Regions from separate parts of the Homo sapiens genome. Here region 1 is linked to region 2. A link means that fine-mapping ties the variant in region 2 to the expression of a gene that starts in the linked region. Tissue or cell type: whole blood. Region 2 holds a variant in brackets; the other region holds the start of a gene. All regions are shown on one strand. Distances are from middle to middle.

Evidence for each region. PIP is the estimated chance that this variant, and not a neighbour inherited with it, causes the effect.
Region 1: it holds the start of PLA2G7, and the variant in region 2 is fine-mapped to the expression of PLA2G7 in whole blood (TOPMed, PIP above 0.99).

The regions. Positions count from the first base shown.
Region 1 is chr6:46,732,577-46,737,728 of GRCh38, reverse strand. It overlaps PLA2G7 (phospholipase A2 group VII), which reads left to right and starts at 2,354. Exons shown (of 12, transcript NM_005084.4): 1 at 2,354-2,549.
Region 2 is chr6:46,711,439-46,716,590 of GRCh38, reverse strand. PLA2G7 (phospholipase A2 group VII) reads left to right here. Exons shown (of 12, transcript NM_005084.4): 4 at 63-207; 5 at 2,038-2,131; 6 at 4,254-4,322; 7 at 4,972-5,095. Among named protein-coding and RNA genes, the nearest start is that of PLA2G7, 21 kb to the left of the region's middle. The variant G/C (reference allele first, on the strand shown) is at 2,809.

The sequences.
Region 1 (5,152 bases), 21 kb before region 2:
TATCCTCCAGGGAAGGACTGTGTCTTATTCATCCTTGAAATGGTACCTGACATACAGCTGGCCCTCACCTCAGTAAACACTATTCAAATTTAAAAAAAAACGTTGAGCGCATGGCAAGGCACAGTGGCTCACACCTGTAACCCTGGCACTTTGAGAGGCTGAGGCAGGAAGATCGCTTGAGCCTAGGAGTTCAAGACCAACCTGGGCAACATAGTGAGACACTGTCTCTACAAAAAATAAAAATAAAAAATTTAGCCAGGTGTGGTGATATGTGTCTGTGATCCTAGCTACTTGGGAAGCTGAGGTAGGAGGATTGCTTGAGCCTGGGAGGTAAAGGCGGCAGTGAGCTGTGATCATGCCACTGCACTTCAGCCTGAGTGACAGAGTGAGACCATATCTCCAGAAAAGAAAAAAAAAAGAAAGAAAGAAAAGAAAAGAAAAAGAAATTGAGCACATTATTACAATTTAATATCTTGATTGAAGGGAAGAGGTGAGACATCAGTTTCATTCATATTAAAGAGGAAATAGGTACTGTTATGTCAATGGGAAATGAGAGGAGGAATTAAATGTAGGAAACAGAATAACAAAGAACCAACTCATAAAAAACTAAAACAACCCATATCAGACACACCTTATAATCTGTATGTCTGTGTTGACTTATCCTCTTGGAATGTGAGGAATATTCTTTATTAATTTTACTTACTGGGTTGCCAGATATAATACAGGAAGCCCAGTTAAATCTGAATTTCAGATAAACAACAAATAACTTTTTAGTATATGTCCCAAATATTGCATGGGGCATATTTATACTAAAAAACTATTTATTGTTTATCTGACATTCAAATTTCACCAGATGTTCTGCATTTTTATTTGCTAAATCTGGGCACTCTTCACTGGGCATCTTCTCAGGGCACTAACCTGCCAAATGCCAACTGCTGTGGGGCTGCTCAGAGAATATGACCTAATGACAATGGGAGATGACATGTTGCTGGCAATGAGAGAAGTGAATAAAATGTTGCATACTTGTTTTCAGGAGCTGTTCTCAAAGCTTACCACCTTTTTAGTGTGGGATTAGGTCTTCAACTTCAACTTTGTCTTCACCTTTGTCTTAAGGTCAAAAGAAGACGTTAGAGATGTCTTTGGTAGGGCATAATGTATCCTTTTAGATTGATATTTGTGGGCCATTTGTTTTACAGGGGGTTAGTCCAGGAAGTACAAGACAATGTCATTAGGCGGATAGAGTTCCATTTAAATTAAAAATAAAATCTATTGTTAGGTTTAAATGAGTCACTGCTTCATTAAGCTATCAATATTAGATAACACATATTGAATGAATGTTTCCCATAGGCCAAGCTCTGTCCCAAGCATTTCACATGTATTTGCATTTCGTGCTCACAAACTGCCTCTGACTGACTGATTTTGATTTTCTTGATTTTATGGATGAGGAGACCGAGAAGCAGAGATGATGAACTTCCCCAAGGTCACACCACTCATAAGTGGGAGAAACAAGCTAAAATTCAGGCCATCTTACTGCAGAATACTCAAAATCAAAATAAGCAAAATTTCATCTCCAGTTCTGGCACCTCACCAAAAACCAAAACACGATTTAAAAATATAAAATTTTAATAACACCACACATAAATTTCAAACTACTTTCCCTAAGTTTCTAGCTGAAGTTTTAAATGAGTGTGTTTTTAATTTATTAGAAAGTGGATTGAAGAGAAAACATTGGAAGATGAAGGAAGGCGTTTCAGTTAAACCCCAAATAACTCTGTGTTACACTGAGCTATGAAACGGCTCCTTCTAGCTCCATTTCTCCTCAGACCTAAGTGCTATTCCTGATTGTCCTTCATTGTCATTTCCAGGGAGAAATGACACCAGCACAGTGGCAGGCCTTCCAATCTGGAGCACGGTCCACACAACTTCCGAATTGGTGTTCAGTGTAAAGTGTATCGGAGTGCGGAAAATGCGCAGGGCATTGCCAACTATAGATGCTCGGAGTAATTCAGTGTATTCAGAGAACACGGTGAAACAAGGAAAACCGGCCTGACTGGGGGGTGAATTCAGCAGGGAGTAAATCTGATCGGCATCAGGTCTGCGGAAAGGAGCTGGTGAGCACGACACCACCCAGGCATTGCCTGGCTCTCTCCGCGGCGGGCTAAGTTAACCGCGGGTCCAGGTGCGGGCCATGGTCTTGGGGAGGGTGCTGGGTGCGCTCGAGCAGGCTAGCGTCGGGAGCCGCCGCTGCTAGTGAGAGGCCGGGGCCACACACGCTCCTCCCCGGTACCTCCTCCAGCATCACCAGGGGAGGAGAGGGTCGGGGCCACAAGGCCGCGCTAGGCGGACCCAGGACACAGCCCGCGCGCAGCCCACCCGCCCGCCGCCTGCCAGAGCTGCTCGGCCCGCAGCCAGGGGGACAGCGGCTGGTCGGAGGCTCGCAGTGCTGTCGGCGAGAAGCAGTCGGGTTTGGAGCGCTTGGGTCGCGTTGGTGCGCGGTGGAACGCGCCCAGGGACCCCAGTTCCCGCGAGCAGCTCCGCGCCGCGCCTGAGTGAGGAGGGGCCCCGGGGGCGAGGCGGGAGTGGGAGGAAGGGCACGGTCGCCGCGCTGGAGGTCGGGACCCCGGAGCGGCGACCGGCCGGGGTGGGCTCGCTGAGTCGCACCCGCTCTGCTGGCCGGTCCTGGGCTCACAGTCCCTGCAGCCCTCGGAAACAGCGCTAGGATCCTTGCGGGGAGAGGGAGAGGATGACGGTATTAGACACCAGTTCTTCCAAACCTTTTCCCGAAAGGAAGCAACCCTAAGAGCTCAGAGCTGGGGGGAGAATCAGGACAGGCAGGGAACACATGGAGTTTTCTTTTCTTTTTTTTCTCTCTCTCTCTCTTTCTTTCGTTCCTTCTTTCTTTCTTTTGAGGCGGAGTCTCATTTTGTCGCCAGGCTGGAGTGCAGAGGCGCGATCTCGACTCACTGCAACCTCTGTCTCCCGGGTTCAAGCAATTCTCCTGCCTCAACTTCCCGAGTAGCTGGGACTGCTGGCGTGCCGTATCACGCTCGGCTAATTTTTTTGAATTTTTAGTAGAGACGGGGTTTCGCTGTGTTCGCCACAATGGTCTCGATCTCCTGACCTCGTGATTCGCCCGCCTCCGCCTCCCAAAATGCTGGGATTACAGGCATGAGCCACCGCGCCCGCCCCGGAGTTTTCTTATCTGTAGATCTCCTACAGGGACAATCTCTCTCTCCGTCTCTCTCTCTCTCTCTCTCTCTCTCTCTCTCTCTCTCTCTCTCTCTCTCTCTCTCTCTCTCTCTCTCTCTCTCTCACACACACACACACCACTACACACCTCTCACTCTGCCTCCTCTCTCTCTCTCCCTCCGCTCTCTCTCTCACACACCCTTCTCCCTCTCTCCCTCTCTCTCACTCTCCCTTTGAGGAGTATTGCGTTTTTGGAGCCCAGTTATGCGTGGCTGCTGTAAGAACAAAACAAAGCACTCTTTGTCCTACCTGGAGCATCCCCCTGCCGGCCAGATAAGATCACAGCTGTGTCACCAAGTCAAGGGAGAGGCTCATTTTTAAAAAATTAAGCAAAATCAGAAAACAGAGAACACTGTCTTCCTCATCATCTCCTGGAGCTTGTAAGAGAAATTTCTGTCACCAAAAACGAAAAGTTCGGGCTTTTATTCATGCCTGTGGTTCTTGGGATTACTGCAGTGGTGATGAGGAAGGAGAGGTGCGTATGGCTCATAAATGGCAGCTTGCCACCTTTAAAAGGCACACGGATTCAGATTTGGGATGTGTTAACAAATCAGGCTTGCACAAATTACTTTTGATCCAAATGAGAATGCTGAGCTGGGAGACTGGTATATGGGTAGGAGCTGGAAAATGTATCCCCTGAGGTGTTGGCAATCCCAAGAGGCTCAGCACGAAACCTTGAGCTTACATTGAATTCAGAGATCTGAGCATTAAGCACTGGCCTGATCAAGAAGAAGCAGATGGCCTTCTGGTCACGAGGCACTGGTGAGCCTCCATCACCCAGGCAGATTCCCTCACAGAGGAATTCTGCTGGCCCTGCAGAAAGTGGTGAGACAGCGCACCACCTTGGCATTTTCCAGCAGGCCTACTTCAGCTCCTTGCACTTGGGCACTGAAAGTGCTTTCCCCTCCCCAGATATTTGTGCACCAGAAGCTGCTGCTGGCCATGTGGTGATGTCTCAATGTCTTTCTTCATTGAACTGGGCCCTTCATACCCAAGGCTGGCACCATAGTCTGTGACTGCCTACTGTACAGCCAGCAAGACTGAAGGAGTTGCAGCATTAGGAGTGTTGTGAATCTGGTTCAGCCACTCATTTTACAGTTGAGAAATCCCTTCTGAGGTGTGGAAGGGCTTGCTTAGCACCGCAGGACTTTTCCCTCAGACAGAACCTGGGACAGCTGGGTCCTCATTTCCTCTCCATTGTGTCTCTGTCCCCTTTGCACTTTTGTTGTGAGGAACATACATGGGCCTAAACACATTCCCTCACTCTCACCTTTGCACATGAATATGACTTACCACACTCTTTGAAGCTCTGTCAGCACAGAACATTAAGAAAAGTGCTAACTGGGTACCTGAGCAGCTGGAGTGGGAGCCCCTGGGAAAGTCAGTTTAGGAGTCCCCTTTATCTTCCTTTTCCTGATACCCAAGAAGATGGCTATTTCCTGGAAAGGAAGGTGGATATTGGATTATTTACACTCTGATTCCTCTTAAGCCTAATTTTTTTTCAAGATTCGTGATAATAAGCCTGACTGACGTCTCAAGATGTTGAGAAATTTCCATAAAATAAAAGCATTGAAGAGAAAGTACTGAGTGAAGGGAAATTGAAGAGAAACATTCAGTTCTAAAATTGTATTGTTTCAGAATATGATTCTGGGTTCTTACTGACTTTCTTCATGACGCCAGCCACCTGTTAGACACATTATGTGCCCTCACTGTCATTTTGCTCAATTTTATGGGCGTGACTCAACACTAACAGAAACAGGCTAATACATACAAACATGTAGGTTTTTGGTTTTTAAAGAAACTTAGCAGTTGAGGAGAAATAAAAAGTCTATTGTAAGAGTAGATGCTCATTGAATTAAGTGGGCTAGTTGATTCCTAGTAGAACTTGTATTCATTCATTCAT
Region 2 (5,152 bases):
AGCTGCTGGAATATGTTTGAGACACAACTTCTCTAAAAGTGCATTAATTTCTTTCTTAACAGGGCACCTTCTTGCGTTTATATTATCCATCCCAAGATAATGATCGCCTTGACACCCTTTGGATCCCAAATAAAGAATATTTTTGGGGTCTTAGCAAATTTCTTGGAACACACTGGCTTATGGGCAACATTTTGAGGTTACTCTTTGGTAAGATTTCTGTTGATCCTTCTTTGTAGGCTCTTGCATGTATGAAAACCTTGAAAACAACAAGAACTTCAAGTAGTTAAGACCAAAGTAGATTTTTCTTCAGTCCAAATAGCTCCTAAAATGATAAGGAAAGTATTTCTTTAAAGCCCAGGCAACTACGACAGAATCAAGGTTCTCATTTTGTCCATTCTGAGTTGGATGGGAGTGGCCGAGAGTATCAGACTGACTCTGACATCTTTCTGTGGCTGCTCTTTAGTTTTCATCTGACATACCATGGAGAAGGCAATACCGTGGTGAGAATAGCAGGTTATTTGGTGTGGCCACTATCCCGCATGCTCTGTGCTAAAGTTAGACAAAAAGAGAAAGAAAGTAGAAGCCATCAAACTCTCCAGATCCAAAACAAAGGAGTCAAAGCTAATGCCTTTCTTGTCATACATGAAGAGACTCTACTCTCATTCCCATCACCTACCCCCATCGCTAAGACAATCTGATGTGTATTCTTCACTTACTGTCTACATTCTGCTAATATAGACTTTTCCTTCCTTATCTGTTTGACTAGACACTACTGTTGGACTGATGTTAACTGTGTCTTCACATTTACCCCTCAAAACGATCTACAAATTTTGGGATTCATCTTAAACATCGGCTTTTAATTTTCTTAAAAACCACTTATAACAGACATGAAAATAGCATAACTCTGCATATTTATGTTGCAAAATAATTTATAAATCACTTCCATAGCAATCATCACATTCAGTCTTTATGACTGCATCTGCATTTTATAGATGAGAAAATGAAACACAAATGATTGCTGATAATAATGGTGACAATAAAAATTGAGAAGTGAAAGAAGACAATATTTCCATTTTTTGAGCCCCTTACTATGTGATGGATTGCACCACTGCTTTACATATATTACCTAATTAAATAAAATTCTCACAAAAACCCTATGAAAGAGATATCATTTTCTGAAGTTTACAGAAGAGGAATCTGAAGTACAGAAAGTTTAAGGAACTTGCCCAAGATCCATAGTTAGGAAGTGGCAGAGCTGCATCCATGACTCAGTATGAAGTCAGTGGTTTCTCTACCTTTTCCTGCATGATTATGACCAAATCATAATGAACAGAGTCTCTGTTTCTTAGATTCTGGCTCTTAGTGTAATGTATCCAAGGTTTTATGGGTAGTTTGGTTTCAGAACATTCCCTTTAAAATTTTTCCAAAACCTGGGAATGGCAGTAAGTAGCAGCCTTTATGAATACACCTATAAGTGGGAAAATCTCTCACCTTAAGTCCAGAGCTGTCAGTAAGAACTCATCGTTAATGATCCTATGGTCTGAGGAAAGAACTTACGCCGGGTGCGGTGGCTCACGCCTGTAATCCCAGCACTTTGGGAGGCTGAGGCAGGTGGATCACCTGAGGTCGGGAGTTCACGACCAGCCTGACCAACATGGAGAAACCCCATCTCTACTAAAAATATAAAATTAGCCAGGCGTGGTGGCGCATGCTTGTAATCTCAGCTAATCGGGAGGCTGAGGCAGGAGAATCGCTTGAACCCGGGAGGCAGAGTTTGCAGTGAGCCGAGATTGTGCCATTGCACTCCAGCCTGGGCAACAAGAGCAAAACTCCATCTCAAAAAAAAAAAAAAAACTTACAGTTCAGCTCTTTGGTTGGTGGGTATCTAGTAGCAGTCTTTTTAATGAATCTACTATTCATCCATAAAAAAGTAGATATAAATCAGATGGGTCTGCATTTTATGCTAATGAGATATGAATTAAATTCACTAGCAACACTCAGAGAAAACCTTAACTATAACCTTCCATTGTTGTCTAGGTTCAATGACAACTCCTGCAAACTGGAATTCCCCTCTGAGGCCTGGTGAAAAATATCCACTTGTTGTTTTTTCTCATGGTCTTGGGGCATTCAGGTAATGTTTGAGAGGTTGAACAATTTTGGCTTCCAGGAATAAATGACAATTTTTTTATTCAAGAAAGAAATAGCAGAGTTTGGAATGTCATGCAGGCCCTTGTCTGGAGGAGTTGGGTTTCCTCAATAATTGGCTGTGGGTCTATTGATCAGTCCTAGACCTGTCTGGTCAAGTAGTTTTTTCCCTACTATCAGCTCATTGGGATTAGCCTCACAGCAGAGAAGAAAGGGTGTTGCATTTTCTATAGTTGTCCTTCATTATTGTAATATTTACACTCTTAAAATTATCCTCTGTAAAGTTTAGAACTTTTGAGAAACCAATTTTAGATTAGCTGGGAAAGACTGTTATTAAGAGAAATATCTGTGAAGGCAAGAGAAGGAGCAGGAAAAGATGGGGAGAACCTTTGGACCATGACACAGGTTGGACACCTGAAAAGGTGATGGGGAAGGGAGAAGGATTGGATAAGAAGAGCTTCAGAATGAAGCATGGTTCTAAGAAATATTGAGCCAGGCCAATGGAAGGAGTGCTGGACTATATTTGCTTATCAAGAGTCCTGTATCTCATAGGAATGGGCTAATGTTAGTACCCATGCTGTGCCAAGTCTCTGGGAGCAGCTCACTGGATGCTTAGCTTCCACTTGACCATGGTGATGGATACAGAGGGGCAGGAGCTGGATA[G/C]GGTCTTTAGTAAGCTATGCAGTCTGTAGCATGATAGCTGAGTGGCACATTTTCATAACAACAACCACCCTCTTCACTTTCTTCCACCACTTTCTCACCTGTCACCCCTCTTCTACTTCAAGGGATTGTAAAACTCAGAAAATAAGAGAGATGGCTTTTAGCTGGGAAGAAGTTGGGTAGCACTTGCAATAAAGAATTCTCTTCAGCACTGTAAATGTAGTTCAGCTAGCTATTTGATTTCTCCTACATTAGTGACTGGCAAATTAGAACCCAAGGGCCAAATCCAGCCCACTGCCTATTTCTATAAAGTTTTATTAGAACACAGCCACACCCATTCATTTTTGTACACTGTCTATGGCTACTTTTGTCCTACAACAGCAGAGTTCAGTAGTGGTGACAAAGACTATGGCCCACAAACCTGGAAATATTTACTCTCTGGCCTTCAACAGAAAAAGTTTGCTAATCCCTGTGCTATATCATTCCCCCCTCTTGAAAAGGTCCTGTATCTTCAGCAATAAATAAATAGTTTCTAGCTACCTCCTTTTTATTCTCTGTGGACATTTCCTATTGAATGCATGGTATGAGGAAAAGGTTGTGCAAATGAAGCTGTGGAAGAGGGCATAAATGCAGTGCTTAGCACATGATTTTTCAACTATTTCACCCAGTCCAATCATTTAAATAATAGCTAACATGTGTTAAGTATTTACCTGTTTCTAATATAAGTACTGAAAATGTATTAATTCAATTGATCCTCACTGATGAGGTAGCATACTATTATAGTGTCACCATTTTATAGATAAGGAACCAAGGCAGCAAAAATATTGTGACTTATTAAAGGTACACAGCTAACAAGTGGTAGAACCAGGGTTCAAACTCAGTGGTCAGACTGCAGGTCTCATTCTTGTAACTACAATACTGTACTGCTTTCCTATATACATTATCTTAGCAAAACCTTACAACTACCCTAAAACAAATGCTTTACTCTTAGGCCCATTTTACAGGTGAGGACAAAAATGCAGTAATTACCTAAAATCATATAGCTGGGAAGTGGCAGAGCCAAGATTAAAAACCCAAAACTCTCAAAGGCAATATTTATAATCACTGCCCTGGGTTTTCTCAACTTTAGTAGTCTTGACATTTTGGACCAGATAATCTCTTGTTGTGAAGGGTTGCCCTGTGCATTGTAGGATGCTTGACAGCATCCCTTTACCCACTAGACACCAGAAATACCCTCGCCCACATTCATGATAATGAAAATACCTCCAGACATTGTCAAATATCCCCTAAGGAACAAAATCACCCTCCTTTAAGAACCGTAGCTCTCCACTCCACCCCAGGGCACTACTACAGGGGTGTAATGGCCTCCATGTTCCCAGTTTTATTAGTGGACTCAGCCTTGTAATCATGACTGGTAGTTGTAATTCTTCCCTCTTTTTGTTTTGAAGGACACTTTATTCTGCTATTGGCATTGACCTGGCATCTCATGGGTTTATAGTTGCTGCTGTAGAACACAGGTATGTTACCTGATATAATTGGGCTCTTTGGCCAACTACAGGGAATGTCAATGCTCATAACTATGTTTCTAATTTTCATAAAAGTTTATTTAAAATGTTGATGGAACTTTCAAGTATGGTAACATCATGAGCAAAAAAGGAGATTGAGTTTATCGACTTAAAAGACTTAAAAGCACCTAACATTTCTAGAGTGTTTATTGCCTGCCATGTCCTATGCGAAATGTTTTTAATACGCCATTTCATTCAGTCTTCATAACAATCCTATGAGATGGTTATTATTATTATTGTTGTTGTTTTAAGGAAGAGGAATATAGAGGTGATAAAGGGTAATTTGCCCAAAGTCACACAACTAGTAAGTGGCAGTGCCGGGATTTGATTCCTGAGACTGAGTTTCAACATGGCTAACATTGCCTCCCAGAATTAGGAAGATAGAATGGATTGAGTTTACCTGCAACTTGATGATAGACAATAAGGTTTTTTTCCTGGAACTCTTTTACAGTCTTCTTTAATTTAAGAGAAAATATAGAGTGGAAGAAGAAAGGGAAGTCAAAAGATCAGAGGAAGTTGAGTCAAGGATGGAACTGAGAAACATGGGTCAGATGAGGAAGGGAAGGAGCATGCATAAATAATAATTTTGCTTGTATTATAGAGATAGATCTGCATCTGCAACTTACTATTTCAAGGACCAATCTGCTGCAGAAATAGGGGACAAGTCTTGGCTCTACCTTAGAACCCTGAAACAAGAGGAGGAGACACATATACGAAATGAGCAGGTACATTGCAGTGAAAGGAGAGGTGGTTGGTGACCTAAAAGCATGTACAAAAGGATG